4 linked regions of the Homo sapiens genome follow. The protein of the gene in region 2 interacts with the protein of the main gene of each other region in a biochemical or structural test. Each region holds a gene or a part of one and is shown on either strand. Other genes may lie near its edges.

Region 1 (7,292 bases), on a different chromosome or scaffold from region 2:
GTTTAGGATAGTGACTTGTCTTACCTCCCATTGCCTTTGATCAGACTGGGTTGGGCTGCAGATTGGTTCACAAACAGGAAATGGGGAGAGGATTGGGTGGGGTTGGGGGACTGCAGGTTGGTTTTGGTGGCAGCACAGAGCAATCTTGCCCTACCCCCAAGGCCCATGTGCAAGCCAATGAAATTGGTCATCCCTGATGCCAGGTTGGCTGGGCACAGCAGCCCCCCGGGGGGGCATCCCCCTCATACTTTATCCCTGAGTGGTTCCCTGCCCTGCACCTGCTCTGACAGTTATACAGAGTTTCTCAGAAGCTGTGTGTGTGTGTGTGTGTGTGTGTGTGTGTGTGTGTGTGTGCGCGCGCGCGCGTAGATGCACAAAAGCTCCGCGTGGCAGGTGGTCTCCTGTAACACGGCTGAGGGGGCGGGGCCTCAGAGGGAACATGTGTTGGAATTCCTTGCCTGCTGGCCTCTTCTAAGGCAGGAGGAGGGGGTGGGACAGAGGCTGGTCCTGGAAAATTCCATAGGAGGGAGGAGAGGATGTGAGCCTGCACGTTTGTCACTGGGGGTCTACTGTATCAGACTGGAGCTGACTGGGGGAGCCCTAAAGCAGGCCCCAGTCCTCAGAGGACCGGGAGCCAGGCCAGCTCCTCACAGGGGAGAGGAAGCCTAGCCTTGCTGTTGTCCAGGCCCTGGAGACACCCACATTGCTGGGTGCCCCTGGCCTATCATAGGATGGATGGATGCCTTTCCTGGCAGCCATATGGCCCCGCTGAGGTGATTTGCATACAGGTGGAAGGCCTGGTGCAGGCTGGCGAGACTGTTGCCTTGGTGACGCCTCCCTGACCCTGACCTGCCCCAGCTGTCTCTATCACTGCCATTCTCTGGGCTTTCTTTCATTCAGGGCAGCCTTTAAAATTCCAAGCTGCCTCTTATCTTCCCCCTCCCCAATACCTGGGCCCCCTGATGGTGGGCGTTCTTCCCACCCCACCCCTTCCACTGCCTTGAGCCTTGGCCCTTGTCTTTGCCCTTACTCCCCCCTGGACTGGGGGCCTGGTGCTGGGGTGGGTGATGGGTGCGGAGGGAGCATGGGTTGCATGGGACCCTTCTCTGTCCTAGGTTTGAACAGGCCATCCAGGCAGCCAGCCGGATCATTCGAAAGTAAGTGTTCCTGGGCCTCTTCCATCTACCACAAGCTTTCCCTTAGGACAGGGCTCCAGAAGGGCATGCTGCATGCTCTTGGTCCCTGCCCTGCCTCTCCCAGCTCTCACCTGTCCCCATTTCCTCCTGTAGCGAGCAGTTTGCCATCAGACGCTTCCAGTCTATGCCGGTGAGTGTCTTCGAGGCCTGACTGAGGCTTAGGCATGCTAGCCAGGCATGGGGTAGATGAGCAGGATGCATTCAGGGATCACCTCCCAGCTGGGTGTCCCCAGGCAGGCTGTAGGAGATGGGGTTTCAGAGGTAGGTAGGTAAGTGGGAGGAGCTGGAGGAGAGGTGGAGAAGGTAGGGCCTGGGCTCGTGCCGGAGGAATGCAGCCTTCATTCCTCTGCCTGCCGCCCTGCCTGGCTCTCTAGGTGAGGCTGCTGGGCCACAGCCCCGTGCTTCGGAACATCACCAACTCCCAGGCGCCCGACGGCCGGAGGAAGAGCGAGGCGGGCAGTGGAGCTGCCAGCAGCTCTGGGGAAGACAAGGAGAATGTGCGCTTCTGGAAGGCCGGGGTGGGAGCTCTCCGGGAAGAGGAGGGGGCATGCTGGGGTGGTTCCCTGGCATGTGAGGACCCTCCTCTCCCATCTTGGCTGCAGGATGGATTTGTCTTCAAGATGCCATGGAAGCCCACACATCCCAGCTCCACCCATGCTCTGGCAGAGTGGGCCAGCCGCAGGGAAGCCTTTGCCCAGAGACCCAGCTCGGCCCCCGACCTGATGGTACATCCAGAGAGCGGATCCCTGGGAGGGGCCTGGGGAGGCAGCCTCGGAGAAGAGGAGGGTGGCCCTGAACCCCCAGGCACTGGGAACTTTTCCTCAGGAGGATGGGGGCGGGAACTATCTCCACCTCTAAGTCTGTGTCTGTCTGTCATGTGGACAGTGTCTCAGTCCTGACCGGAAGATGGAAGTGGAGGAGCTCAGCCCCCTGGCCCTAGGTCGCTTCTCTCTGACCCCTGCAGAGGGGGATACTGAGGAAGATGATGGATTTGTGGACATCCTAGAGAGTGACTTAAAGGTAAACAGCCTTGTCCCACCAGGCCCCTACCTTCCTATCCCTGGGTTCGCCCAAAAGAAGAGAGCTCTGAGCCCTTGTGGCAGGACCATGATGTCATTCCAGTGTCAGAAGAAGAATCTGAGGTAACTGAGTCACAGCCTAACCTCTGGCCAATGAGAGAAGAACAGGTGGCTGGTGCCACAGTGGAGGGCGGTTTGGGAGGTAGGGGAGCTTCTCACCCCAACCTGGAGTTTGCCAGGGAAACAGGGAAGGCTGTGCTGGAGGATTCCGGGACTGGAGGGGTTTGGCCTATGCCTGTGGGTTGTGACCCTGTCCTTGCTAATCTGGCCTCAGGATGATGATGCAGTTCCCCCAGGCATGGAGAGTCTCATTAGTGCCCCACTGGTCAAGACCTTGGAAAAGGAAGAGGAAAAGGTGGGCCTCTGGGGTGGCCCCCTCCGAATTTGGAGGCATGGGGTCCATCCTACTCTCCAGTGGATTTGAGGGATGGGACGGGGCCTGGGCACCCTGATCCCTAACCTGCTGTCCCTGCCAGGACCTCGTCATGTACAGCAAGTGCCAGCGGCTCTTCCGCTCTCCGTCCATGCCCTGCAGCGTGATCCGGCCCATCCTCAAGAGGCTGGAGCGGCCCCAGGACAGGGACACGCCCGTGCAGAATAAGCGGAGGCGGAGCGTGACCCCTCCTGAGGAGCAGCAGGAGGCTGAGGAACCTGTGAGTGCCTTCCTCCTGGGGTTCACTTTGGCATGCACCTGGGCAGCCACCCCCTTGGCTAAGTTTGTGGCAGAGGGCAGGTGGCAGCCTGGGCATGGCAGAGAAAGGGGGTACCAGCCAGCCAGAGCACTGGGGGGCAGCCCCACCCTGACCCTGGCCTCCATCTGACTCACTTTCCAGAAAGCCCGCGTCCTCCGCTCAAAATCACTGTGTCACGATGAGATCGAGAACCTCCTGGACAGTGACCACCGAGAGCTGATTGGAGATTACTCTAAGGTACCTGCAGCAGCGAAGGGGGTACCTTGGGGGCTTGACCTCTTACTGACTAGGGGTCCTCTAGCCCAGGGGCTGCTTGGGTTCCTCCCTTTCTCCCCGGAGCCCCCCTTTTCTTTGTCCTTTGTATCTTTTCATCCTTTGTTCTCACATAGACTCCTCCCTCTGGCCCTCCTTGTCTCCTGACTCCACCTCAAGTCAGTCCAGGCATCTGTTGAGTCTCCGTCTTATTTCCAAGCTCATACCTAGCTTGGAACCCCCTCATGCCTCACCTTCGGGCTTGGCAGAGGGTAGGGAGCAGAGTGTGGAGTTCATCTCTTCCACTTCCCTTTTTCATTTCTCTTTCCCCTTGGAAGGTTGTTCCCTGGGTGTCAGACCCAAGAGGTGCCTCTCAGTTGCCATGGGAACCAGAACTGAATTTGAAGGCCAAAGCAGGTGTGGCCTCTGATTTTGGGAATGAAACTTCATTCTTTGAGGCTCCTGGTCTTACCAATTTAACTTTCTCCCCTCTCCCTCATCCCTTCCGTTCCCTTCAGGCCTTCCTCCTACAGACAGTAGACGGAAAGCACCAAGACCTCAAGTACATCTCACCAGAAACGGTAAACAGCGTTGCGTCATTTTCTAGGCAGATTTGGGACTGTAGCTCCATTGTTGACCTTCCCTGGGGACAGGCTAGGGCCACCTGCCAGCTGCCAGCCTGACCTGCCGGAACCAACCCCCATGACCTCCTACAGATGGTGGCCCTATTGACGGGCAAGTTCAGCAACATCGTGGATAAGTTTGTGATTGTAGACTGCAGATACCCCTATGAATATGAAGGCGGGCACATCAAGGTAAGATGGGGCAATGGGGAGAGGCCCTGAAGATCCCACCTGGTTTAGGTCCTTGCTTTGCCAAGAGGGTGAATGGGTGGAGGACGGGTGCCCCCTCTCATGGGGAGGGTTCCTACTAAGAGAAGGACAGCGACTGCACGGGGAGGGCCCTGACTCCTGGACCCGGGGCTGTGCCTGACCTCTGGCTCCTCTGACAGACTGCGGTGAACTTGCCCCTGGAACGCGACGCCGAGAGCTTCCTACTGAAGAGCCCCATCGCGCCCTGTAGCCTGGACAAGAGAGTCATCCTCATTTTCCACTGTGAATTCTCATCTGAGCGTGGGCCCCGCATGTGAGTCCCAGCTCCGCCCAGCCAGCTAGTGTCTGCCCTGGCCTTCCCTGCCCAGGCTCACAGGTGCTGGCACCATTGAGATGGCCAGGGGTGCAAGTCCAGGTCCTCCTCTGTCCCATCTGATGGCCTAGAGCTGACCTCAGCCCCACTTCACTGTGCATGGTACCCGCCTCCCATCTCCCTCACTGTCCTGCCTATCAAGCCTCATGTCCACCCCACATCCATTACTGCCACCCTCAGAAAATTTAGTTCCAAGTCTCTAGCGGTGTCTTTTCTCGAAATCTAAGGGCCGCGTGTCAGTCCCCAGTACACGGACCCTCCCCATGTTCAGTGCTGTTAGGTCTCCATTAGAACCTCTTCCATTGGCATCCACAGCACCTGGGCCTCCCTGGCTGAGCTCCTTCTGTCGCTATTCCTGTTCTGCCTGGCCATCTGTCCTCCCACCCCTGCCTCCTCCTGGGTTGCCACTGGTCCATATGACTGCTAGTGGCTCCCCAGCCTGGCCTCACCCATGTGGTGGGAATCTGCACCCAGACGCCCCTTACAGAGTCGCATCCCTGCGGCCCTCCCAACTTCTCCAGGCATCCCAGCATATGGCACCCACCTCCACCTGGGCACCGGGCCTGGGCACTGGCTTCAGTCTTGGGTCCTCCTCCTCCCTTCTCCCCACCACTGATCCTCACCAGGTCTTGTCCAGGAGTGGCCCGAATGGATCCCTTGAATTTGGCCCACTTGTCTCCTCTCCTGCTTCTCCTTTCCTGGTCCAGGCACAGATATCTCTAACAAAGATTGTGCAACTGCCTTCTAGAAACGGAGAGTTCATCCCCTTGATTTTACCTCCTTCCTTCCGCCTCCCCACCCTCTTCTGTAGCCAGAGTGACCTAAAAGTGTTCTTGTGGTTACATTCCTGTGCTCTAAAGCTTTCTGTGGCTCCCCAAGGCCCTCAAAGGAGGGGACGTGGGGGATAGGTCCCATGATGTACAAGCCACTGCATGCCCCACTCTGACCACACCCTGCCCATGACGCCCCAGGTGCCGTTTCATCAGGGAACGAGACCGTGCTGTCAACGACTACCCCAGCCTCTACTACCCTGAGATGTATATCCTGAAAGGCGGCTACAAGGAGTTCTTCCCTCAGCACCCGGTAGCGTGGGTGGGGAAGGCCACAGTCTCTGTGTGAGGGTTGGCTTGGCCAGGCTGGAGCCATGGGATGGGGGGTGGGAGGGTTGGGTCCCTGCCAAACTTACCCATTCCACTGCATTGACCCCTCCTGTCCTGCCCTAGAACTTCTGTGAACCCCAGGACTACCGGCCCATGAACCACGAGGCCTTCAAGGATGAGCTAAAGACCTTCCGCCTCAAGACTCGCAGCTGGGCTGGGGAGCGGAGCCGGCGGGAGCTCTGTAGCCGGCTGCAGGACCAGTGAGGGGCCTGCGCCAGTCCTGCTACCTCCCTTGCCTTTCGAGGCCTGAAGCCAGCTGCCCTATGGGCCTGCCGGGCTGAGGGCCTGCTGGAGGCCTCAGGTGCTGTCCATGGGAAAGATGGTGTGGGTGTCCTGCCTGTCTGCCCCAGCCCAGATTCCCCTGTGTCATCCCATCATTTTCCATATCCTGGTGCCCCCCACCCCTGGAAGAGCCCAGTCTGTTGAGTTAGTTAAGTTGGGTTAATACCAGCTTAAAGGCAGTATTTTGTGTCCTCCAGGAGCTTCTTGTTTCCTTGTTAGGGTTAACCCTTCATCTTCCTGTGTCCTGAAACGCTCCTTTGTGTGTGTGTCAGCTGAGGCTGGGGGAGAGCCGTGGTCCCTGAGGATGGGTCAGAGCTAAACTCCTTCCTGGCCTGAGAGTCAGCTCTCTGCCCTGTGTACTTCCCGGGCCAGGGCTGCCCCTAATCTCTGTAGGAACCGTGGTATGTCTGCCATGTTGCCCCTTTCTCTTTTCCCCTTTCCTGTCCCACCATACGAGCACCTCCAGCCTGAACAGAAGCTCTTACTCTTTCCTATTTCAGTGTTACCTGTGTGCTTGGTCTGTTTGACTTTACGCCCATCTCAGGACACTTCCGTAGACTGTTTAGGTTCCCCTGTCAAATATCAGTTACCCACTCGGTCCCAGTTTTGTTGCCCCAGAAAGGGATGTTATTATCCTTGGGGGCTCCCAGGGCAAGGGTTAAGGCCTGAATCATGAGCCTGCTGGAAGCCCAGCCCCTACTGCTGTGAACCCTGGGGCCTGACTGCTCAGAACTTGCTGCTGTCTTGTTGCGGATGGATGGAAGGTTGGATGGATGGGTGGATGGCCGTGGATGGCCGTGGATGCGCAGTGCCTTGCATACCCAAACCAGGTGGGAGCGTTTTGTTGAGCATGACAGCCTGCAGCAGGAATATATGTGTGCCTATTTGTGTGGACAAAAATATTTACACTTAGGGTTTGGAGCTATTCAAGAGGAAATGTCACAGAAGCAGCTAAACCAAGGACTGAGCACCCTCTGGATTCTGAATCTCAAGATGGGGGCAGGGCTGTGCTTGAAGGCCCTGCTGAGTCATCTGTTAGGGCCTTGGTTCAATAAAGCACTGAGCAAGTTGAGAAACCAGCATTGTGTCCTGTGGGGCCCTGGGCAAGACCCCAGAAGCCCGCCAATGGCGGGATTGGGGTAGGAGACAGGGTCAGCAAAGGCAGGAAGAGTTGCTGGAGAGGTGCCCTCATGCTCTTGTCCCTTCTTCTCCCAATGTCTTCCATCTCTTGGGTGACACTCCTGCCAGGACTTTGGATTCAACCCCTCCTTCCCCTCACCTGGCCTCCCAAGCACTTCTAGGCTTGCCCTTCCTAAACTCGGCACCAAAAGGCAAGAGTGACCTCATCACTCAAGGATCATCAGTGGCTCCCCATTGTCCTCAGGATAAACTTAAAGCCAGCTGCAGTGACTCACGCCTGTAATC
Region 2 (8,053 bases):
TACCATTAGAGATGAAACAAGATTGGTCAGGAGTTAATAACTGTTAAAGCAGGACACTATTCTGTTTATTTTGTATATGTTTGAAAGTTCCCATAATAAAAGTTAAAATAAAAAGAATGATGTTGAAACTGGTTCATACAATCAAGTACAAAGTATCAGGAATTAATTATTCTGAAGGAAAATTATGTAAAAATGGCACCTTCCTAACCAAGTGTGAGGTGTAACTACTGTATGTATGTAGACCAAAAATAGTTGCCCTATTGGCAAATCAATAGTCTCAAGAAGAAAAAAAATCTGGTCTCTGTTTTATCTTATGCCTCATGAAAACAACTGGTTTACTCGCTATTAACTGGTTTGTCTGGTCCTTTTCTTTATCCAGAAAATTAAGAATATTTTATCTTAGACACATTCAAGTATCCCCTCTGTTGTTTATTTACGGGACCAAATAAACAGATTTTAATCTGTGAACAAATTAAAGTCCTGGCACCCTGAAAATTAAATTGCCAGGAAAATCAAAGCTGTCAAAAGAGAAGTCTATGCAAAAATAGTATTGTTTTTAACTCTGCAGGATCCTTTTGAAGAAAAAAAAAAGTTAAATGGAGGAAAACATTAAATAGATTGGTGGTCATTCTTCCAGAACAAGTTAAAAGCCAAAAGAGAATACTCAGAGCTGAGGGACCCAGGAAAGAATCCTTATCTGGGAAGTGATCTGGGTTCGAACTCCACTCACCAGCTGCTTGCTAAGAAACAGACTACTTAGACTCCTGAGCTTCCGTTTCCACAGGGCTCCAGTTACAATCAAATGAGTATCTGGGCTGGCACCTGGGCAAACAGGGCCTGGCTCCCCTGGCCTTAGGCTACCTTTCCTGCTCTCCTCACAGCTCCTCCCTCCCACACAGCCAGTCCTGGAGGATGACGATCCTGCAACCAAGCTGAATGAATCTGTATTTGGCTTGGCTCACAGCATTAAAAAAAAATTTAATTAGCTATTGCCAACATTTAAAAATCAGAACAAATGTGGAGTGCTGCCTTCCTTTTTAGAGACAGGGTCTTGCTCTGTCACCCAGGCTGGAGCACAGTGGTGTGATCATAGCTCACTGCAGGCTCCAAATCCTGGGCTCATGGGATCCTTCCACCTCAGCCTCCCAAGCAGCTAGGACTACAGGTGGATGCCACCACACCTAGCTAATTTCTTAAAATTTTTTGTAGAGACAGATCTCGCTACGTTGCCCAGGCTGGTCTTGAACTCCTGGCCTGAAGTGATCCTCCCACATCAGCCTCCCAAAGTGTCTTGAAATTACTGGCGTGAGCCATGGCACCCAGCCAAATTCCACCTTCTTCTAGAAAACTGCTGGGTAAGGTTCCTGTTCTTTAGGGTCCCCACGACTCTGTGTCCTTACACCTGGCCCTCCAGACTGATTCTCAACTCCACAGTGGCCTACGGTCCTTCCTTGGCCCTGCTCCTTCACACCTCTGTGCCTCTCCCTGCCTAGCAAATTTCTTATCACCCTCAAGGCCCCCCAGCACCACCTGTCACCTCCTCCACATTTCCATGGCATAGCCCCTCCCCTATAGCAAGGGTTGTACAGTCCTGGAACTAAGTGTCTGCATGCCTGCCTTCTCTACTGGGCTCCTGGGCTCTCTCGGGAAAGGGACCCCGTTGCTATCTGCCTTGTGTCCGTAGGGTCTAGCAGAAAGCATGACCTAGATAATGCAGAATTCAGTAAATGTCTCTTGTATGTGTGGAAGAAAGCTACAGCTAAACTATTATAAAAATGTGAGATTTTATATCACAGCTTGTTCCAACAGTTAGCAATTAAAGGGGTCAAGGACACCAAAATGTTTCACAAAATAGAACAAGCTTCCATCTGCTTACAAGTTTCACACGCTAATCAGAAGTCACTAAATGAACAGATAAAGCAGAGACAACAGGCAGGCTGGGCCATTTCTTTGATCATTCATTCATTCATTGAGCTGATACTACTGAATACTTCCTGTGTGCTTTCTAAGCACTGGGGATAAAGCAGTGGACAAATCAGACAGCTACCTGTTTTCACAAAGTTACATCCTAGTCGGGGAGACAGAAAATAAGCAGGCAAATAAATAGAATAGTTTCAAACCAGATGAGAGCTAGGAAGGAAATTTTTTAAATAATGAAATAGCATGACTAAGGGAAGAAAGAGGGTGGTCGAGGAGGGCCTCACCCAAAACGAGACATCTGACCAGAGGAAGGAGCAGAAAGAGCTACTTGTGCCAAGATCACGGAGACAACTCCAAAGACGGGGAAACAGCAAATGCAAAGGTCCTGGGGCAAATGCGGGCTGGCATGTTCAAGGCGGGCGAGATGAGTGGGACGGGGCAGCAGTCTTCTGGGGGAGGGGCGCGGTGGTAAGGGATTCGGGCTGGGTCCCCTCTGGCACTGCTGGACACCGAGTGTGCAATGACAAGGCAAGAGAGGAGTGCGCGGGGAGGCGGGAGGCTGGGCGGGTGGGGAGGGGGTTCCTACACCACTCACACCAGCACGGGCCAGCACCCTGCCCAGTCTTCCACAGATGCACACCGGGGTCCTGCCCAGGCGTCTGCATACATTCACACAGCCTGACAACAACCCTGTCCAGAAGAGACATTTCCCCACCTTCCCGAAGGCAAAACCGCGGCAGAGCGAGGGTCAGTGCCTTGGCCAAGGTCGCGGGGACGCGACCCCGGGCCCCTGGGCACCCGGCGCAGGAGTGCAGCTGTCTGCCCCACCTCCGGGAGGGATGGCGCCCGCAGACCCCACGGGCAGGTCGGCCGGGCCAGGCCGGTGAGCAGGCCCGCAGCCCGGGGCTGCTGACAGCCGGGCGGAAGGGGGCGCCTGCGGCATCCCCCAGCACAGGGGCGACGGCTGCGGCTGCCAGGGCCCCGCAGCCCCCGGCCCGCCCCGAAGCCCCCGGCCGCGCGGTTCCCTCACCGCCCCTCCCCGCGGGCCCGGCCCGAGCAGCCGCCGCCAGGCCTAGCCCGCCCGCCGGGCTCACCTCGCCTCCCCGCCGCCGCGCCACGGGGAGAGGGCGGGCGGGCGGACTGGCGGCGCTGCGTGCTAGTCACTCCTGGCTCCGCGGCCCCGGCTCCGCCGCCGGCCCGCCCCGCTCCGCTCCGCCCCGCCGCCGCCGCCGCCGCCGCCGCCGCAGTGGGTGTGAGGGGCGCCGGGGCGCTGCGACCCTTCCGGTCCCGCTCCCTTCTCCGCCGCTGCCGCCGCCGCGGCGCCCGGTCTGACAGACCCTCGCGCCGACCAATCAGCGCGCGGAGAGCGGAGCAGGCGCGGCCAATGGCGCCTGGGGGGCGGGCCGATGGAGGGTGGCGCGGGCGGGGTCGGGGGCCGGGTCGGGCGCCCGAGGTCCTGGGCCGGGGTTCCGCGGGTTCTTCGCCCCCGGGCCTTTCAGTGGCGCGGGCCGAGTGGCCATGGCGCTCGGGTGCGCGCAGTGCACGCGGTGAGCTGGAGACGCAGGCATTGCGCGGCCCACCGGCTGAGCCCGCTCTCCCTGCGAGGGGGGCGCAGCTCGGTGGAGAGGGTGGCCCGGAGGACCGGGAACCGGGCTGGAGGCGCGCGGGGCTCACACCGCGGGGTCCGCGGGGAGCCGGGCCTCGGGCTGCAGGTGCAGGCTTGTGGCGGTGAGGCGACTGGAGCGGCACGGGAGCCCGCCCGTTTCGGGGAGAGCCCGGGGCGATCGCGGGGGGAGGCCGGCCTGGCGTCCGGGAGCCCGGCGTGCTAGGGCCCGGTAGGCGGGGCGGGCCTCGCACTCGGTTGCTCGCTGCGGCGCCGGAGGAACGGGTCTATGGGGGTGTGGGTGAGGCCAGAAGCCGGGTCGAAGAGGGGGAGGGGGTGCGAAGAGATGGCGGTGTGTAGACAGGTGACCCGGTGGGTCGGTGACGCAGGAGGAGACTGCGCTTGGTGGCGGGATCACTTAGTTGACAACATCTAAAAATTAGGAGGTGCGGCAGGGCGCGGTGGCTCACGCCTGTAATCCTAGAACTTTGGGAGGTCGTGGCGGGTGGACTACCTGAGGTGAGGAGTTCGAGACCAGCCTGGCTAACCTGGTGAAACCCCGTCTCTATTAAAAATACGAAGCAATGAGCTGGGCGTGGTGGCGGGCGCCTGTAATCCCAGCTACTCGGGAGGCTGAGGCAGGAGAATCACTTAAACCTGGGAGGCGGAGGTTGCAGTGAGCCGGGATTGCGCCATTGCACTCCAGCCTGGGTGACAGAGTGAGACTCTCTCAAAAAAAAAAAAAAAAAAAAAAAAAAAAAAAAAAAAAAAAAGGGAGGTGCTCAGTCAAGCCTCTGAGAGGAGTGGGGGGCGGGGCGAGGAGTCTCTTGCTCAGAGCCCCCTAGGGACTGGGACCCGTTGACTCTGAGCTGCTTTTGAGGCTGGATCAGGTACCAGCGGCCTGGGGGTCGTACAGGATGGGAGAGGCCGGGGCTTGGGATGTTGCCAGATCTACGTTGAAAAGTGAAGCAGGAAGAGAGGCACTGAGGCTGGGCACATGGGGAAAACCGTGGAGAGCCGGCCTTTGGGGACTAGAAGAGTGGGAACAATGGTTGACAAATGGTGAGTGTGGTGTAGAACAGCAGTAACACAATACCAGGATCCACAGAGTGGCCAGGGCCAGAGTGGGGAGAAGGAACAGGACTCTGCAGATGGGGAGGGTAAGGGGCTGGGTGGCGTGAAGGGTGGTTGCAGAATTTGGGGAGGGCAGCTAGCCTGTGACCCAGGTTCCAAGGGCACTGAGGTCTGGGCCAGGCCGCTTGGAGGCACCAGAGCCTCAGAGGAGGGGTGGGGTAGAGGAACGGATCCAGCATGGTGTCCCCCTTGGCCACCAGAGGGAGTTTTCTAAATTTGAGCATGGCTCATCGCTGCTTGAAATTCTACGTCACAGTGTGGCCTGCATTGAGGAGGGCCCACACCTGTCGCTACCTCAGACTCACCTGCCACCTGCCTCAAGTGCATGAGAGAGAACAGGAAACCAGAAATTGTCAGGATCGAGGATTATGGGAAAAGAGTAAAAGCCTAGCTGTCAGATCTGAGGTTCCACCAAGGAGCACTGATGGGTGCTTCTCATTAGGAAGGCGGTGCGGTGGCTCACACCTGTAATCCCAGTACTTTGGGACGCCGAGGTGAGTGGATCACCTGAGGCCAGGAGTTCGAGACCAGCCTGGCCAACATGGTGAAACGTCATCTCTATTAGAAATACAAACATTAGCTGGGCGTGGTGATGGGTGCTTGTAATTCCAGCTATTCAGGAAACCAAGGCAGGAGAATAACTTGAATCCACGAGGCAGAGGTTGCAGTGAGCCGAGATTGCTCCACTGCACTCCAGCCTGGGCAACAGAGCAAAAACTGCATCTCAAAAAAATAAAAACAAAAAAACAGAGGGGACACCAGTTCCCAGCACTCCAGGCCTAACTTCATAGCACTCACATCATGTCAAGTGAGTAACCAAAAATCAGTGTACATATGTACACAGCTATACATATCTCACACTAAGTTTTCTGTAAGAGTTCTTTTTATTGCAGAGACACTGCTTTTTTTCTGGTTTATGAAATACAGTGAACATTTATGGACACAAAGCTGAGGTGACAGGGTGGGGAGGGGGGCCTTGGAACAGCACCAAGAATCCTGGTTGAACCCTCCAAGTGAAAAGATCCTGCCACGACATACGTGAACCAGGTGTGACACGTGAGCACGTCTCACCTGATCCGGCCTATGGTGGGGAGAAGCAATTGAGGAAGGCCTTCTGGGCAGGAGGAAGTTGTTGCTGAGGCTGCCGAGCAGGATGTGTTGGGCCTGTGACTTAGGCAGAAAGGGCGCTCAGGCCCACATGCTCAGATGTGAGGACCTGCTTGCTGTGTTCAGGGAGCCACAAGTCACCTGGTCTTAGGGAAAGGTGAGGGGACTGGAGAGTTCTGAGGACCTTGAGGTAGATTGGCACTGCCAGGCATGTAGGCTGGCTTTAGCTCACTGATACGCCTTGTTCAGCCCAGAGAGGTTTTCTTTTTTTAATTGATTAGTTGATTTAAGAAACATTTAGATTTGGGATGAGCTGTTTTGGATGTTTATCCTCAATGAAACTCATGTTCAAACTTAATCTCCAATGTGGCAGTACTGAGAGGTGGGGCCTCTAAGCGTGGTTGGGATTAACCTGTCGATGGATTCATGGATTAAAGGGTTATCACCGGAGTGGGACTGGTGACTTCATTAGAAGAGGAAGGAAGACCTGAGCTGGCCTGTGAATATGCTCCGCCCCCTGGCCATGTGACACCTGCGCCACCCTCAGGACTCTGCAGAGTCCCCAGCAGCAAGAAGGCCCTCACCAGGTGCAGCCCCTCAACCTTGGACTTCTCAGCCCCCAGGGCTGTAACAAATAAATTCTTTTTTAAAGTAAATTACCCAGTTTCAGGTATTCTGTTATAAGCAACAGAATAAGAAACAGACTAAGACAAGAGCACAGCGGGGTGGAGGAGCTAGGGGTGCCTGGGGCATTGGGGACCTGTCCGGAGGCCAGCTGTGTATGCAGCCACAGTGCCAACGGGTTTCTGTGATCCTGATATCCCCCACCCTTGACTGGCCTGGATTCCAATCCGACTCTTGTCAGCTGTGCTCCTCTGGGCAAGGGATTCACTTCTGTCTGCCTTGGTTCTGTAGGAAGTGGCATGGAGAAGGACAGAAGCAGGAAGAGCTGGGTGCGGCCCATGCAGCAGGGATGGTGTAGGTCCTTATGCTGACTGCCTCTGTCCCCTCAACACTTTGCCTGCCCTCCCCCCATTGCACTAACCCACATCTTCCCTTCTCCCCTACAAGGACCCAGAGATGTGCTAGAGGGTGTAAGTCGGGGCTGTCCCAGCTGTGTGTTGTAGAAAACTAAACTGCACTTAAACCAATGGGGACGTTTACTGGGAGGTGCCTGTAACATCATACCCAGGGGAGGTAGGGGCAGAGCTGGTCTGGAAACTCTAGGGCCATGGAGGCCACTGCAGGCCCAAATGGAGTTTGAAAACCCACAACAATGGACTCTGATGGTCCCCCAGACAGGGCTTCCATTCTGGAACTAGTCAGCCATGCTGGGCAGACAGGCTCATGTGAGGACATGGCAGGGAAGGGCAGAATTGGGAAAGGCAGAAGTCTGGAAGTTTCTTCCATGGTGATGATTAGAATGAGGGCATCTGAGCTGGGGCGCAGCTGAGGGTGTGGCACTGTATGGAAACAGGGTTATTTGGGGGCTGTATAACTGAATGCTGAACCCAGTGGCCCTTAGCCCTCCTCCTCCGGGAATCCCCCAGAGCACCAGCAGCTGGGACTGTCCTCAGGCAGGGAGCCAGCAAGCTGTTCTCCAGAAGTCTGACCAGCCCTGAAGGGAAGACCTGAGGTATGAACATTATGACACCCCCACCCCCACCAGATTTCCCAGCAGTGAATCCTGCATCAACCAGCCCTACCATGCCTTAGACCTTCCAGTCAGCCCCCCTTGAATCTGAACAGACAGCTCCATGTCATATGGCTAAGAAAAGTAAGACAAAAAACTGCATCTTGAAAGAAACAGACTCTGTGGAGAAGGAAAATTCAAAAAATAAAAATAAAACTACTGCTAGCTTCAGAGAGAATGAAAAAATATTGCATCCTTCAAACAAGAACCAGCCATTTAAAAATTATGCAGCACAGGTGTATGCAACATGGCCTTGCTCTGTCAGCTGAGATGGCCTAGAAGCAATGACATCTCAGCAGTGGCTGACACACCCAGAGCCCAGATCTTGTTCTCTAATGTCATTCGCCATAAAAGGAACCAGGGATCCCTGGAGAAATGGTTGATTCTAGGGCTGGGACAGGGGATGGACAAGACGAGCCTGGAGAATATTGTTGTGCAGGTAAGGAAGTACTTACAACACACACACACACACACACACACACACAAGGAAGTACAACACACACGTAAGAAAGTACACACACGGAAGTACTTACCCCCCCCCCCACACACACACGGAAGTACTTACCACACACACACACACACACACACACAAGGAA
Region 3 (7,292 bases), about 42 Mb from region 2:
AAAAAAAAAAAAAAAATCCAAAGAAAACGGAGACAATTTTTGTGACCTTGAGTTGGCAAAAATTTATTAGATACAATGCTTAAAAATGGATACAGACTGGGCGTGGTGGCTCATGCCTGTAAACCCAGCACTTTGGTAGGCCAAGGCGGATGGATCACTTAAGCCCGGGAGTTCGAGACCAGCCTGGACAACATGGTAAAACCCTCTCTCTATAAAAAATACAGAAATTGGCTGGGCATGGTGATGCGCATCTGTAGTCCCAGTTACTCAGGAGGCTGAGTTGGGAGGATCGCTTGAGCCTGAGAGGCAGAGGTTGCAGTGAGCTAAGATTGTGCCACTGCACTCCAACCAGAGTGACAGCGAGACCCTATCTCAAAAAAAAAAAAAAAAAGATAAGTTTCAATTAGCTAATTAATTCCAAACTCTTAGTAATATGGCTCTTAGCATAATTATTATGGTGTGTTCTAGAGAAGCCCCTTTTGAAATCCTCATCTAGCTTTCCCCTGCCTTCTCAGGGGAAAATTGAAGTTATATGAAGTCCTGTCTGTCATGGAGACCAGGCACCCTACTCCTCAGTGCCTCACCATATCTCCTTTCCTACCCTACCTTTGGTTGATCCATTCATGCATCACTGGCTTCGTGGCCTTGACTGTATCTCTTGGCTTCTTCCTTTTGGGCTTTGGCTTCTGCTACTGCCTAATTATTTCTCCATCTTCCAAGTTAGGCAACCAAGAGAGGGAACCTGATTGGCCTAGATTATTTTTGCTTATTCTAGACCACTAAATAGATGTGTTCAACCAGCAATATGGTCCAGTCATCAGTGTCTGGGGGGTAGGGTGGATGGGGACATAGGGCGATGTTTGGAAGGAGTCTAAGGGTACGTATAATGTGGACGGTACCATCAGCTGGTATCACGAACAAGAGGTAGGACCATGTGTGTGATAAACAACATAATATCCATAGCTGTCATAAAGCAAAATGTTGTTATTCTTATTTCGTTCTTCCAGAAACCATTGATCATCAAGCTGCCTTCCAGTTATGGCTCTCTTATTGTATAGCCCCCCTCCTAAATCAGTCCATAACAGGTAGTGCGATAAGTGTTTAGAGAAGGAGCTTTTGCCTGTTCTCTAGGTGAGAGGTAGAGATCTCAAAGTATGTGGCAACAGAGGATAGAATTGTGGATTAGTTGGAAGGTGTTATCAGAGGTCATTTGATAGACCCTCAACTCTGAATATAGCACCCAAACCATGCCTTTCAAATAAACAACAGTCTATCCTCTTATACTTTAATCTGTTCCTGTGTAAGCAATTCTCAAGGCTAGTTCTTCATGACGTTTGAGCCACTTTTTTTTCCCTGATGGGTTTCATAGTATCCATCCTATAATGGTCAGCATGCTATTTGATTTTAGTGTGTCCTTTTTTCTTGCATGATGCTTCTTTTGCTATTTTTCTTCTTGGCTTTTCATCTTTAGGTTTGTTGAGGTCCTTAAATCCTGATTGTCAATGTCCTAGGATCCCAGAGACAAAATGGACTTATGTTTTTTTTTTTTTTTTTTTTTTTGGTCACATAACTGGAGGGACTGAGCTTGTGTTTGCTTTCTGTTAGAAGAACTGGTGCATCTAAGACAGTCAGCTGCAGAATTTGGTTTGGCTAGTTAAGACGTCCATGGAGATGGAATATCATGCAGTCCAGGTAGAAAGATATTAACGGGCCTATGAAGACAGGTTGCCTACCCAAGGCTTCTCAAACTTGAGAAATCACCTGGGCATCTTGTTAAAATGCAGATTTTAATTCAGTAGGTTTGGGGTGTGGCCTAACATCTGGAAACCTGCATTTCAAAGAAGCTCCCAGGAGATGTTGTTGCTGCAGGTCTGCAGACACACTTGGAGGAGTAAGAACTAGGGGGTTTAATATTCCCAAACAGGTGAGCAGAAGTGGCCTATATCGCTCCCCGTCGATGCCAGAGAACTTGAACAGGCCAAGACTGAAGCAGGTGGAAAAATTCAAGGACAACACAATACCAGATAAAGTTAAAAAAAAGTATTTTTCTGGCCAAGGAAAGCTCAGGAAGGTAAGAACTTTTTAAGATGAAAATCTTGTTCATCTTCTATCTCATGTCTTTGCTTTTCTGGTATGAGGATTGTTTTATTATGCCTTTTTTGTCTTCTTCCTCTTTACTTTTACTTTTTCCTCTTTGTTCTTTCCATCTTTCTGTCTTTTCTACATCTGTATCCACGTGAAATATATATATATATATAAAATATTTATATAACATAGATACATAAAGTATATCTATATTGTACTTTTAGAAATGTTGTCATAGGCCGGGTGCAGTGGCTCACGCCTATAATCCTAGCACTTTGGGAGGCCGAGGCGGGCGGATTGCCTGAGCTCAGGAGTTCAAGACCAGACTGGGCAACACGGTGAAACCCCGTCTCTACTAAAATACAAGAAATCAGCTGGGCGTGGCAGCATGTGCCTGTAGTCCCGGCTACTCAGGAGGCTGAGGCAGGAGAATCGCTTGAACCCGGGAGGTGGAGGTTGCAGTGAGCCAAGATTGTGCCACTGCACTCCAGCCTGGGCAACAGAGCAAGACTCCGTCTCAAAAAAAAAAAAAAAAAGAGAAATGTTGTCATCATACCGTCTTCCCAACCCTTTTTCTTAAGATCTGAAAGAATACAAGGGAACTTTGGTATGGATATTTTACTGCTGTTTTACATGCAGTCTGACAGAAACAACATCATATAGCAGGTTGGTTTTGTGGAAAGCAACTTCTGAAAAACTTAGCCTTTGTCCTTTACCCTCCCCAACTTTAAAAAAATTAAATAGATGGGAGGATCACTTAAGGTCAGAAGTTCAAGACCAGCCTGGTCAATATAGCATGACCCCATCTCTAATAAAAAAAAATAAAATAAAAAATTAAAATTCTAAAATCTTTGGATATTTTATAAAATCAACTTATTTATTTATTTATTTATTTTCCCCTGAGATGGGGTCTCACTCTGTCACCCAGGCTGGATTGCAGTGGCATGGTCTTGACTCACTGCAGCCTCAATATTTATTTATTATTAAAAATAATAAATAAACAAATGGAGTCTCACTCTGTCTCCCAGACTGGAGTGCAGTGGTGCAATCGTAGCTCACTATAGCCTTGGCCTCCTGGGCTCAAGTGATCTCCCTACCTCAGCCTCCCATGTAGCTAGGATTACAGATGTGCGCCACCATGGCCCACTCCATCCACTGGTTTTTAAACCTTTAACATGAGGATTGGGTGTGGGGTGGGAATCTTGTCATCTTCAGGGCTTATGTTTAAAGAAGACAGTCTCTCTGTGTGACATTACTATCACTCAGATGCTGGAGGAAGATTCTAACCAGGGGCACCTGATTGGTGATTTTTCCAAGGTGAGTTTGGCTACACCCATCCTGTATTTCAGTGAGTCATTTTGGATCTGAATCTTCTCTGTTTGCCGAGAATGCCTGGTGTAAATATGCATCCTCACCAAGTACTCTTTGGTAACCTGACAGTGCTCTAGTGGTAGATCCAGGCCCTAAGCCTTTCCAGAGAGAAAGTATTTCTTATTCTTCTGGGAAGATCCAGAACAGGGGAAAGTATGAGACTTTTTACCTTTTTTCTGTTTAAAAACATATTTTAAAATTATGTAAATAATACTTGGTTGTTACAGAAAAAGTAGAAAATGAAGAAATTTATCCCAAACTTTATTAACCAGGGTAATATTGCTTAGTATATACTCTTTTTTTCCCCCCTACTGTCTGTGTAATTGCAGAAGGTACATATTCTTACAGATTTTTTTCTGTGTTTTCACAAACACATATACAAATACAGTTTTTGCTTTTCTACAAAAACAGTTTATATTGTTTTGTTATCTGTTGTTTTTCCTCTCATTTAATAATTATATCAGGGGCATCTTTTTTCATATTAATAAGCAGTTATGCTTCATTCTTTCTTTTTTTAAGATTCAAGGTCTTGATCTGTTGCCCAGGCTGGAGTACATTGGCATGATCATAGCTCACTTCAGCCTCGAGCTCCTGGCCTCAAGAAATCCTCTCTCTCCTTGGCTTCCCAAAGCACTGAGGTTACAGGCATGAGCCACCATGCCCAGCCCATTTCATTTTAATAGCTCCATATTATTTCTTTTTTTTTTTTTTTTGGCTGCTCATAATTTCTTCATAAATCCCTTCTTGTAAGATATTTGGTTTTACAATTTTTTCTTATGAATGATACCAAGATGAATATATTTGTAGAGAAATCTAAAACTTCGTACACATCCTTGATTTGTTCTTTAGGATCAGTTCTTAGAAATGGACTTGATGTATATGCACTTTATAGAGACACTGATTTTTTTGAAGGCCTCTGGGGTTTTAAGGGTCACTTGGAAAGAAGGACAAAATAAGGGTCTTTGATCTCAAACTTGGGTGTGGAATACTTGCTGTTATTTCAGCTCTTGTGTATTTCTAGGTATGTGCGCTGCCAACCGTGTCAGGGAAACACCAAGATCTGAAGTATGTCAACCCAGAAACAGTAAGCAGATTTCTGGAGATGGTAACTGGTTACATAAGCTACCATCTGGTCTCTTCTGTCCCTAAAATGCCCATTTCCATTTGTATTTCTTTCACTGTGTTCACTCACACAGGCTCCTTATTCAACTGAAGTTATATTGAAGGACTCATTTTTTTCCCCATTCTTCTCTCTCCTTCGTTTTTAGTTAAACAAATGATACATAGTTTTTGTAAAAGGGAAAAAGGGAGGGGTCAGGCATGGTGGCTCACGCCTGAAATCCTAGCATTTTGGGAGGCTGAGGCAGGCAGATCTCAGGCACTTGAGGCAGGGAATTCGAGACCACCCTGGCCAACATGGCGAAACCCCATCTCTAATAAAAATACAAAAAAATTAACCAGGCGTGGTAATGTGTGCCTATAATCCCAGCTACTTGGGAGGCTGAAGCACAAGAATTGCTTGAACCCCAGTTGGGGAGGTTGCAGTGAGCAGAGATCGTGCCACTGTACTCCAGCCTGGGCGACACAGCGAGACTGTCTCAAAAAATAATAATTACTTAAGAAAAAAGGGAGAAAGAAAGGAAAATAAAAAATCACACACAAGAAATGGTCTCAATTAAGGTCTCAATTAGGGTGACCATGCACCCTCGTTTACATTTTACAATCCCATTTTCATCTATTAGTGAGGGTAATTATTAATAGTGTTTGCTTTCATTCTCAAAAGTCTCCCAGTTTGTACAAAAATTATTTGGTCACCATACCCACAATCTCATCACCAGAGATAACCACTAGTCATATTTTCCTATGGCCTTCCAGATTTTATTTTATTTTTAGACATGGAGTTTCGCTCTTGTTGCCCAGGCTGGAGTGCAATGGCACAATCTCGGCTTGCTGCAACCTCTGCCTCCCGGAGGTCATTCTCCTGCCTCAGCCTCCCAAGTAGCTGGGATTACAGGTGCCAGCCATCACACCGACTAATTTTTGTATTTTTAGTAGAGACGGGGTTTTACTATGTTGGTCAGGCTGGTTTCAAACTCCTGTCCTCTGGTGATCCACCCTCCTCAGCCTCCCAAAGTGCTGGGATTACAGGTGTGAGCCACTGCGCCCAGCCCCAGATTTTATTCTAGCATATGTTTTATAGAAATGGGATCATGGGCCTAGCACAGCTCACACCTGTAATCCCAGCACTTTGAGAGGCCAAGGCAGGCGAATCACCTGAGGTTGGGAGTTCGAGACGAGTCTGACCAACATGGAGAAACCCCGTCTCTACTAAAAATATAAAATTAGCTGGGTGTGGTAGCGCATGCCTGTAATCCCAGCTACTCGGGAGGCTGAGGCAGGAGAATTGCTTGAACCCGGGAGGCAGAGGTTGCGGTGAGCCAAGATGGCACCATTGTACTCCAGCCTGGGCAACAAGGGCGAAATTCCATCTCAAAAAACAAAAAAAAAGGATCATGATGAACGTATAGTATTGCAATTTGCTTAGTGAGACATTATAGACATCTTTCTATATCAATAAGGTATCTATATTATCATTTTAATGGCTATATAATGCCGCTCTATTCTACTGACATGTACAATTTATTTTACCAAACCCCTATTATTGAATATTGAAGTTATTTCTAATATATTGATAATATAAAACAATGCTGAGATGAATATAATTGTGCCTACATCTTTGTGTACTTTTCCTGTTTACTTAAGATGTTAGAAATTGCTGAGTCAAAGTGTGATTACATTTATTTGTATATGTATTTACAAAGTTCCCTTCAGAAAGGCTGAACCAATTTGCACTCCTACAAGTAGCTTCAGTTTCTTCCTTCCTTTAGGTATCAACCTTTCCCTTCCATATCCTTTCCTGAAAGACTTACTTTCTTCCTTTTTGATGGTGGGTAGGGAACCATTTTGCATTTCTTCCTGCAATTTCAAGCTCTCTAGCTGCTGCCTCTGCCACTGCAGAAGTCCTTGGGCATCTCCTGAGTCCAGCCATGCCTATCCCCAGATGGGTAGCCTGAATATGGTTTTCCTTGGTATCTTGTCAGTGCCAGCTATTTTGGTTCTCTAAAAGGGCCACTTCCTGTTTCATTCTCTTTTGTGGAGTGGGGCTGAATCATTGCCACATATCAAATATGGGGTGACTTTGGAGGCTGGACATACAGTGGACAGAACAGGAGTATGCTTGTAAGGAACTGTGTCATTGACCCTTCTCTCCCTCAGAGTGGCAGTGAGCAGAATATTCAGTCATTGTTTCTGTCCAGGTGGCTGCCTTACTGTCGGGGAAGTTCCAGGGTCTGATTGAGAAGTTTTATGTCATTGATTGTCGCTATCCATATGAGTATCTGGGAGGACACATCCAGGTGAGACGACATTGTGGCCATTAGTAGGGGAGGGCTGGAGATAACTCTTTATTGAGAAGAGTCTGTGGACAAAGGGGTCTATGAACTCTAGAGTCAGGACAAAGATTACATATTTGAAGCACCTCAAGGCTGAGGTCCTCATTGTTTTAATTCTGTATACCTTAAGCAGGTTACTTTCCCTTTCCCTCCTAGATCTATCTCCCTCTTTTCTGTAGGAGCCAAGGGGTCCTACCTAGAAATAAAAACATTAATCCAAGGACTGAAGCACTTTGCAAACACTTACTATTCATGAACATTCCTCGCAGTGATCTCTATACTTCCAGTGGTTCAGGTCTATAAACATTTATTGACCATCTACAAGCTCTATGCCAGGCGTTCAGGGTATATACAGAGATATACTTAGACCCCTGCCCTAAAGGT
Region 4 (7,292 bases), about 120 Mb from region 2:
TAAATAGAAGATTTTAAGTTTGTCCCTCTTTTTCAGGGTGATAGCTGAAATCAGTGAAAGTGCCTGTAAGTGGCGCCCAAGGGTTTGGAATTTTTCCTTATATTACAGAATTTAGGGGCTTTTTCTTCCTATTTACTGTCTTTGAAGAAAAATTACAGTGTTACTCTCCATTGAACAGCCTATTGTGAGTTTGGTAGATATAATTACCCCATCCTATTTTTGTAACTTAAAAAACCAAACTATCAATTTGCTGGCCCCGTGAAAGAACAAGATATGCTGTACTTGTTAATGTTAGTTTTTGTTTAAAACTAAAGGTATTTCACAGGCTGCTTTTATATCCTCATATAGCCCTCAGATTTCACTTCCTTTTTAAAGCTATTAGGCTAAAAATATGATTTAGTGACCTTTTACTAAAGAGGAGGTATAAGAGCATTATTACCTAAAAATTACTCTTAAAATATTAAGTGGGTGACTTTATAAAAATAAAGGTAGTCACATAAGTTAGTCTTCCGTGAATTTGTAAGTTTTTAGTTAAGAATGGTGTCAGTTTCATTTTAAATCAGATAAGAAAATTAATGCATTCTTCAAAGATGAACCTTAATATAATTCTGGAAGAGAAATATAAGAGCTAGAATTGTTGCCAACTTTTATTTTCTTTTCATATCTGATTTTGGCAAGAGTGACTGGTTAACCAACATTCCTTAATATACGATTTCCAATGCACTAAAACTCCATTTTGTTAGATACGAAAAACAGGAAGTAGCCCTGTTCATTGATATTCATTTACAACTTCCATAGCACCTCGAGCATAATATGTTGCATATTTTAGAAATGGCCACTGACTTGTCAACTTGCAGATTTCAAAATGTGGGAAGAAAGGAGTGTTTTTTTGCTTTCAACAAGAGCAAAAAAAAAACCAGCTACAGCTTGCCTAGGCTGAGTCGGCTAATCAGTCCTTGACACTGGCTGTGTGCATCCCAAAGGAAGAAATGAGGGGGTGGCAAGGTAGTTAATGGGGAATGGATTACCATGAGGAAAAATATGGGGCATTCAGAAATGCTCTCAGGTAGAAAGCACCTCTTTTGCATTTTGTACTCCAGTCATCTTCTTGGGTTGAGGGCTGTCTGTTACACAGAAGGCGATGGGAAAATGTGTCATGGAAAAGTAGTAGTCTCTAGAGGCTGCTTAGGAACTGCGTGTATATTACACCTCTAATCTTGGAATTCTTTGCTTCTATCAAATATATCAAGTATAGACTTGGTTGTTTTCCTTAGTCCTTGCCTCTTTCTATATCCTAAGTTAAAAGCTAAAGCAACTTAAACATGTAAATGGTAGACTATTAATGTGAGGAAATGTGTAAGATTAGGAGTAACCCAAAGTTGTCTTTAAGAAATTATTTAAGAACATGTTTAATCATGAAAGAAATAATCAGGGCCGGAATTAGTAAATGGTTCATTGCAAAGCATGAGATTAGTCAGATACTCTTTTCAGTTTGCAAAAATATATTAGGATTTTATCTGTGGCTTAAAACATACTCATTGAGCATATAGATATGCCTAGATACCTTTTACATAATCAACTCTTTTGCCTTCTGTGTGTGTGTATGATATCTATTATATGTATTATATATATGTTTATATATAATCTCATTTGATCATCACTGCAGCCCCCTAAGATAGTGTAATTTCTGTTTTCTGTAGGTGCAAACTCATCTGAGATGGTAAAACCTCATGATTACACAACTAGAAGACAGCTAGGATTCAATCCCAAGTCAGACTGACTCCACAGTCCATTTCTTTCCACTACTCTGCTTCTTCCATTTTCTTTTTTCAAATTAATAATCAAATTAATTGATTATTTTTAAGGAGAAATTTGTTTTGCAGGCATTCTAATAGACCATGAGCTAGGTCTCTACCCTGTGCTAAGTTTGCCTGTTAATGTATATAATAGGTATGTTTCTGTAACCTGGCCTTGTATATGTAATACAAGTAAACTGTATTTGGATCACCCTATCATGTCAGCCAAAGAGGGTTAGTCATTAGTGTTGAATGTTTCTTAGATTTATTGATTTGTGCTGTATTAAATCATAAGTGAAAGGAGATAAGCTGAAATTAATATGGTTCATTCATGGTAATCACACAGGAAGAGAAACTTTTACTATTGCTAGACCCTACCCCTTTGTTATTGTTTTAGATTTCATCCATTCAACATTTATGAACTTCTGCAAGGTGGTGGTCTTGAGTGGTGGAGAAAAAGATCATGAGTGCACAAGCTGTTTCTGTCGGTAGGTTGTAGTATGAACATGTTTCACAATACCGTGTTAAGTGCTATAAGAGAGATGGGGATACAGAGGGGATACAACATATTAGTTTCAAACTATTTCTGCCTATTTTCTGATAAGAATATATACAACACTGCATGTTCAGGCATGTTTTTTTTTCTTCCAAGGGAAAATTAAAAAGGAGATACGGGGAGCAAGAAATTCAACATCTGCTACTGCTAGTTCTGAAATTCTGTCTTTATTATTAGTAACAGCAACTCTACTAGTTACGAAAACAACATGGAGAAATATAAAATATTCTTTAGGGCATAAGATGATCAAGAAGATAGCCTTGTCTTTATTTACTCTATGGCATGTCATTGGTGATTGAGTTATGTTTGGTATGGAAGGGAGTTCTGTATTGTTAGTGATTGAGTCCTTTGGAATACCAGGCTGGTTTGATGCAGATGTTAATTTGATCGAGATGTGGAGATGTTGTAGCATACTAAGGGGAATTGTTAAAACTCACCAAGTGTATAATTCTGCAAGTACACATCTGTCACCTGGGAATTACTAAGCCACCAGACCTCTTGAAGCCTGGAGAAAGTGCTTGGAGCCACATGGGACAGCCTACACAGTACTGTAGTTAGTACGTTAACTAAGTTCATCACTTGTAAGCATAATGATGGATAGACATGGAGTGAGAACAGGGTCAGTACTGGGGTGTAGGTGGAAGCTTTGCTCTTGACAGATGTTATCATTACTTTTCTTTTTTTATTTTTAAATTAGAAATGGGTTCTCACTATGTTGCCCAGGCTGGAATCGAACTCCTGGGCTCAGGTGATCTTTCCACATAGCTGGAACTATGGGTGCAAGCCACTGTGTCTGGCTTTACTTTTCTTCATTGCCTAAACAATAATTTAAGTTATATGTTAACACATAATCTTCAAACTGGTCTTATGGTATTCTGAATACTAAACATCAGTTGTTAACAGACCAGGAACTTTATCTGATTCTTTGCACCATCTCCCAGCATCTAGACTAGTGTCTGGCACCCATGAATATTAGGTACCCAGAAATGTTAACATGAATTAATTTTCCAAAAGTGGTTAAATTAGTATATCTGAAGATTAACTTACTGTAGTGAGATTTTAATCATGATCTAGCTTAAGACGAGTTTTGAAGGCAAGAACTGTCTTTTTTTAGGAGTTTTTGTATATCGTTTGGTATTTATTTATTTATTTTTGAGACGGAGTCTTGCTCTGTTGCCCAGGCTGGAGTGCAGTGGCGCAATCTTTGCTCACTGCAGCCTCTGCCTCCTAGGTTCAAGCAATTCTCCTGCCTAGCCTCCCGAGTAGCTTGCTGGGATTACAGGCATGCCCCACTATGCCCAGTTAATTTTTGTATTTTTTTGTAGAGACAGGGTTTCACCATGTTGGCCAGGCTGGTCTTGAACTCCTGACCTCAAGTGATCCACCCACCTTGGCCTCCCAAAGTGCTGGGATTACAGAAATGAGCCACTGCGGCCAGACCATTGCTTGATGTTTAATAGCAGTAGTTGGCATTTAGCAAGCAGTCATTGATAATATTGACCAATTTTATGTAATGTGAGCCTTCTAATAATTAGTGTAGTTACAAAATAATTGGAGCCATGCTCAAACTGTCAAATATTGAGAAAACTGAATTCCTGGTATTTGAAAGTGTCTAATTATTTGCGTTAATTGGTAAGCCCCTCCTGATTTTCTACTTAACCATGACACTTCTTCCGTGGCGCCCATCTTCATTCTCTTGAACATTGATACTGGAAGATTCCCAGGGTGGTCCTAGGCCTTCTCTCATTCTGTCTTGTCGATCCCCACCCCAGTCTTATTAATGCCCTTAGATCAGTTATGGACCATTTACAAATGATTGCAGAGTTTATTGTCCTAACCATGATCTCTCCTAAAGTCCAGACCTACACCTGGCTACATGACTTCTGCGCAGTCAGATGTCTAAAACCAAATTAAAGATCTTCCCTAAACCTTCTCCTAACATGTTCCCTGCTCATTAAATGGCAGAACCAGAACCCAGGAGTCACCCTTGACACCTCCTCCTCTCACCTCGTCAGATTCAGACCATCCTTAGGTGCTGGCAGTTTGACCTGTTATCACACCCCTAGCCAGGTGCCCATTGTCTCTCATTTCCACTAACTTAGTGGCCTCCTTGCCTGATCCCTGTGTCCTTTCTCCTTTGCTGTCCGTTCCAATCTGTATTAGGTGGCCAGAGTGATCATTTCCAAATGTAAATCTGATCATAACTTCCTCCCTCCAGAAAAGTAAATGTAATTTAATTTTAAGATGTTCAGATGGCTTCCATTTGGATAAAGACCAGGAAATCTTTAACATGCCTGACCGAGTCCCTGCCCGGTTGGGCCCCTGTCTGCTTCTCCAGGCCCATCTCAGCTCACACTTGCCCTTGTTCCGTGGCAGGGTTGCGTGCTTTCATTTCCTCAGACTCACTCACTGCCTTCTTCTATAGGGCCCTCACATGCTCCCTCTGCCAGGAACACTGTTTTTCCATAAAGTCAGCTCCTCGTTGTTAAAATCTTAACTCATTGACACTTCCTCAGGGAAGCTTTCCCTCATCCACCCAGACTGGCTTTGTAGCAGGGTGTCCCTACTGTCAGTGTTGTGCTTTTACATTTGTTACCTCATTTGATGAATGACTGCCTTCCCCCTAGCACCTAGCAGGATGCCTGGCATAGGGTAGACACTGCATAAATATTTATTGAATAAATGAATGAGAGGGATAATGGCATGGCATGTTCAAATTAGTGGATCCACTGTTTTTCCTGTTTAGTCAGACGTAGTTTAGGACATAGCTGAAAAGGTGTTAAATGGCAAAAGTCTAGACTATGGTGTTTCAACACTGTAGATTTGTGATAGACTCATTCAGAGGTACCTGGACTTGTAGACGTGCCTGGTGGCTCGAGTGAAATAGGACAGCTTAATGTAGTAGAGAGCAAATAGCTATACTGCATGACAACTTTATAGGTAAGAAGAGTCTGCTATGTGTATATAATTATTCTGTACTTAATAGGGAGTTAAGAGTGCGTGTGTGTATATATATGCATTTATATATTCACACATACATCTGTGAATAAATATACACATAAAGGTGTCATGCATTAATATAATTATTCTTATTTTTAAAGTTCTCAGAATGTCATCTAAACTTAAGATATCATTTTTAGAATTCTTATCTGATAACCCTACTTCATCCAAAATTCATTAATTTGATCATAATTCAACTTGGGATAAATAAAAGTTCACATTTCCATTGAAGAAAATATTTGTTAGGCAAGTACTCCATGAGATTGCAGAAGCCAAGAACCCATGTAACAAAACATTTCAAAGTTTACTGTTGGTAAGTAAACCCAGCAGCCTCTCTTATCTAGAACATGGGTTAGCACTAAGAAGTAAGAAAAAATACTCTAAGCAGCCAAAGGACCTGTAACAAAATATGTGCTTTGAAGCACTTTGATTTTACACTTAGTAGAGTTCCCAGGGCATTTGCTCAGGATTGATACTTATTTCAGATGTTGTTCATGCAGTGTTGTTCATGTGGTGTTCCTAACATGCAGCAATTAGAAGCAGCCAGTTAGAAGGGGTGGCGGTGTGAGTCCTGCAAGAGGCAGGTTCCCCAAAGGCAGCAGTGTTGGCACACCTGACAGTGAGAGGAGAGAGGGAGAATAGGACTCAAAACATTGCAGTCGGGGGCCACCTAGCATTGGTACAATTAGTTCCATCTAGGGCAGCCTCTGCCATTTAAAAATATACTCAGTGAAGTGAAGTTGGAAAGCTTGTAATATAGATTAAGGAAAATTACTATCCAAGATAGTTATAGAAAGTGTCTTGATCTTTGAAGTGGTAAACCTCTAACTGTTCTGTAAGATGTATTTCTGTAGCCTTGATGATACTGAATAAATATGTACTTTAGAATTACATAAAAATGGATGCTGCTTACCGAATGTCTTATCTATTATCTGTGTGGAGAAATCTTTTTTGTTATTGTTGACCTGAGTCATTTTATACCTTGCAGTTTCTTTAAAATGCATAATAATCACCACTACCACTAATATACTGATCTTTTCCGGTTTTTTAAAAAAAATTTTTATTTTTTTTTTTGAGACGGAGTCTTAAAGATATTTTTCTTGCTCCAAGGGTCTAGATTCTTCTTTTTTTGTTGTTGTTGAGATGGAGTTTCGCTCTTGTTGCCCAGGCTGGAGTGCAATGGCACAATCTTGGTTCACCACAACCTCCGCCTCCCAGGTTCAGGCAATTCTCCTGCCTCAGCCTCTTGAGTAGCTGGGATTACAGGCGCCTGCCACCACTTCCAACTTTTTAAATTTTTGTATTTTTAGTAGAGACAGGGTTTCACCATGTTGGCCAGGCTGGTCTTGAACTCCTGACCTCAGGTAATCCACCCGCCTCAGCTTCCCAAAGTGCTGAGATTACAGGTGTGAGCCACCATGCCCGGCCAGGTCTAGATTCTTAAATAACCAAATTTCAAGTTTTGTACAAAGATTGAAGGAAAGCTAGTCTTTAACCAGGAAGAAAAGGATTTGTTAAGAGATTATCAGCCGTATCTTTGCTGACTCATTGATACTGTGGTGCCTAAGACATCTTGGCTTTTGTGACAGAATCCTGCATACAACTTTCTCCAGGATAGTTCCTCCAGGAGGGACCCCTCTGCCAGGCACTGTGGCAGTCACATGTCCAGGCTGCATCTCTGCCCTGCTCAGCCTCTTCATCCTTGCATTCAGATCTCCATGTGGTTTAGGGTGCCCATCAGGGTAAACACTGCCATTGTCTCTTTAATTGCTGTGCTCTTACTCTTCTGGCTTTCACACCTTCAGCTTCCAATCAGTCACCAGTTCTTGTTATTGCCACTCTCCTAGTAGCCTGAGAATCCATCCAACTTCCTCCACTGCCATGACTGCTAACCCAGGGTCAGGCCACTGTCAACCCACTGTCAACCTTTTCTTCACCCT

Evidence for each region.
Region 1: of the proteins of MAPK9 (region 2) and CDC25B, one has a biochemical effect on the other in vitro, tested with the Homo sapiens proteins (one study listed by BioGRID).
Region 3: of the proteins of MAPK9 (region 2) and CDC25C, one has a biochemical effect on the other in vitro, tested with the Homo sapiens proteins (one study listed by BioGRID).
Region 4: the proteins of MAPK9 (region 2) and MAP3K1 form a complex in vitro, tested with the Homo sapiens proteins (one study listed by BioGRID).

Annotation. Positions count from the first base shown.
Region 1 is NC_000020.11:3,799,173-3,806,464, forward strand, and holds the end of CDC25B (M-phase inducer phosphatase 2), read left to right. Parts: intron 1-875; exon of another isoform or gene 876-1,115; coding exon 1,116-1,157; intron 1,158-1,289; coding exon 1,290-1,326; intron 1,327-1,570; coding exon 1,571-1,693; intron 1,694-1,798; coding exon 1,799-1,921; intron 1,922-2,081; coding exon 2,082-2,216; intron 2,217-2,549; coding exon 2,550-2,630; intron 2,631-2,751; coding exon 2,752-2,928; intron 2,929-3,108; coding exon 3,109-3,204; intron 3,205-3,557; exon of another isoform or gene 3,558-3,636; intron 3,637-3,737; coding exon 3,738-3,800; intron 3,801-3,935; coding exon 3,936-4,034; intron 4,035-4,231; coding exon 4,232-4,365; intron 4,366-5,396; coding exon 5,397-5,508; intron 5,509-5,648; coding exon 5,649-5,789; 3' UTR 5,790-6,943; downstream 6,944-7,292. UniProt on the Homo sapiens protein: Tyrosine protein phosphatase which functions as a dosage-dependent inducer of mitotic progression. Directly dephosphorylates CDK1 and stimulates its kinase activity.
Region 2 is NC_000005.10:180,288,834-180,296,886, forward strand, and holds the start of MAPK9 (mitogen-activated protein kinase 9), read right to left. Parts: upstream 3,251-8,053; 5' UTR 3,015-3,250; intron 2,443-3,014; exon of another isoform or gene 2,205-2,442; intron 1-2,204. UniProt on the Homo sapiens protein: Serine/threonine-protein kinase involved in various processes such as cell proliferation, differentiation, migration, transformation and programmed cell death.
Region 3 is NC_000005.10:138,286,749-138,294,040, reverse strand, and holds part of CDC25C (M-phase inducer phosphatase 3), read left to right. Parts: intron 1-1,924; coding exon 1,925-2,071; intron 2,072-3,300; coding exon 3,301-3,402; intron 3,403-4,477; coding exon 4,478-4,540; intron 4,541-6,773; coding exon 6,774-6,872; intron 6,873-7,292. UniProt on the Homo sapiens protein: Functions as a dosage-dependent inducer in mitotic control. Tyrosine protein phosphatase required for progression of the cell cycle. When phosphorylated, highly effective in activating G2 cells into prophase.
Region 4 is NC_000005.10:56,818,533-56,825,824, forward strand, and holds part of MAP3K1 (mitogen-activated protein kinase kinase kinase 1), read left to right. Parts: intron 1-1,700; exon of another isoform or gene 1,701-2,213; coding exon of another isoform or gene 2,214-2,284; intron 2,285-7,292. UniProt on the Homo sapiens protein: Component of a protein kinase signal transduction cascade. Activates the ERK and JNK kinase pathways by phosphorylation of MAP2K1 and MAP2K4. May phosphorylate the MAPK8/JNK1 kinase.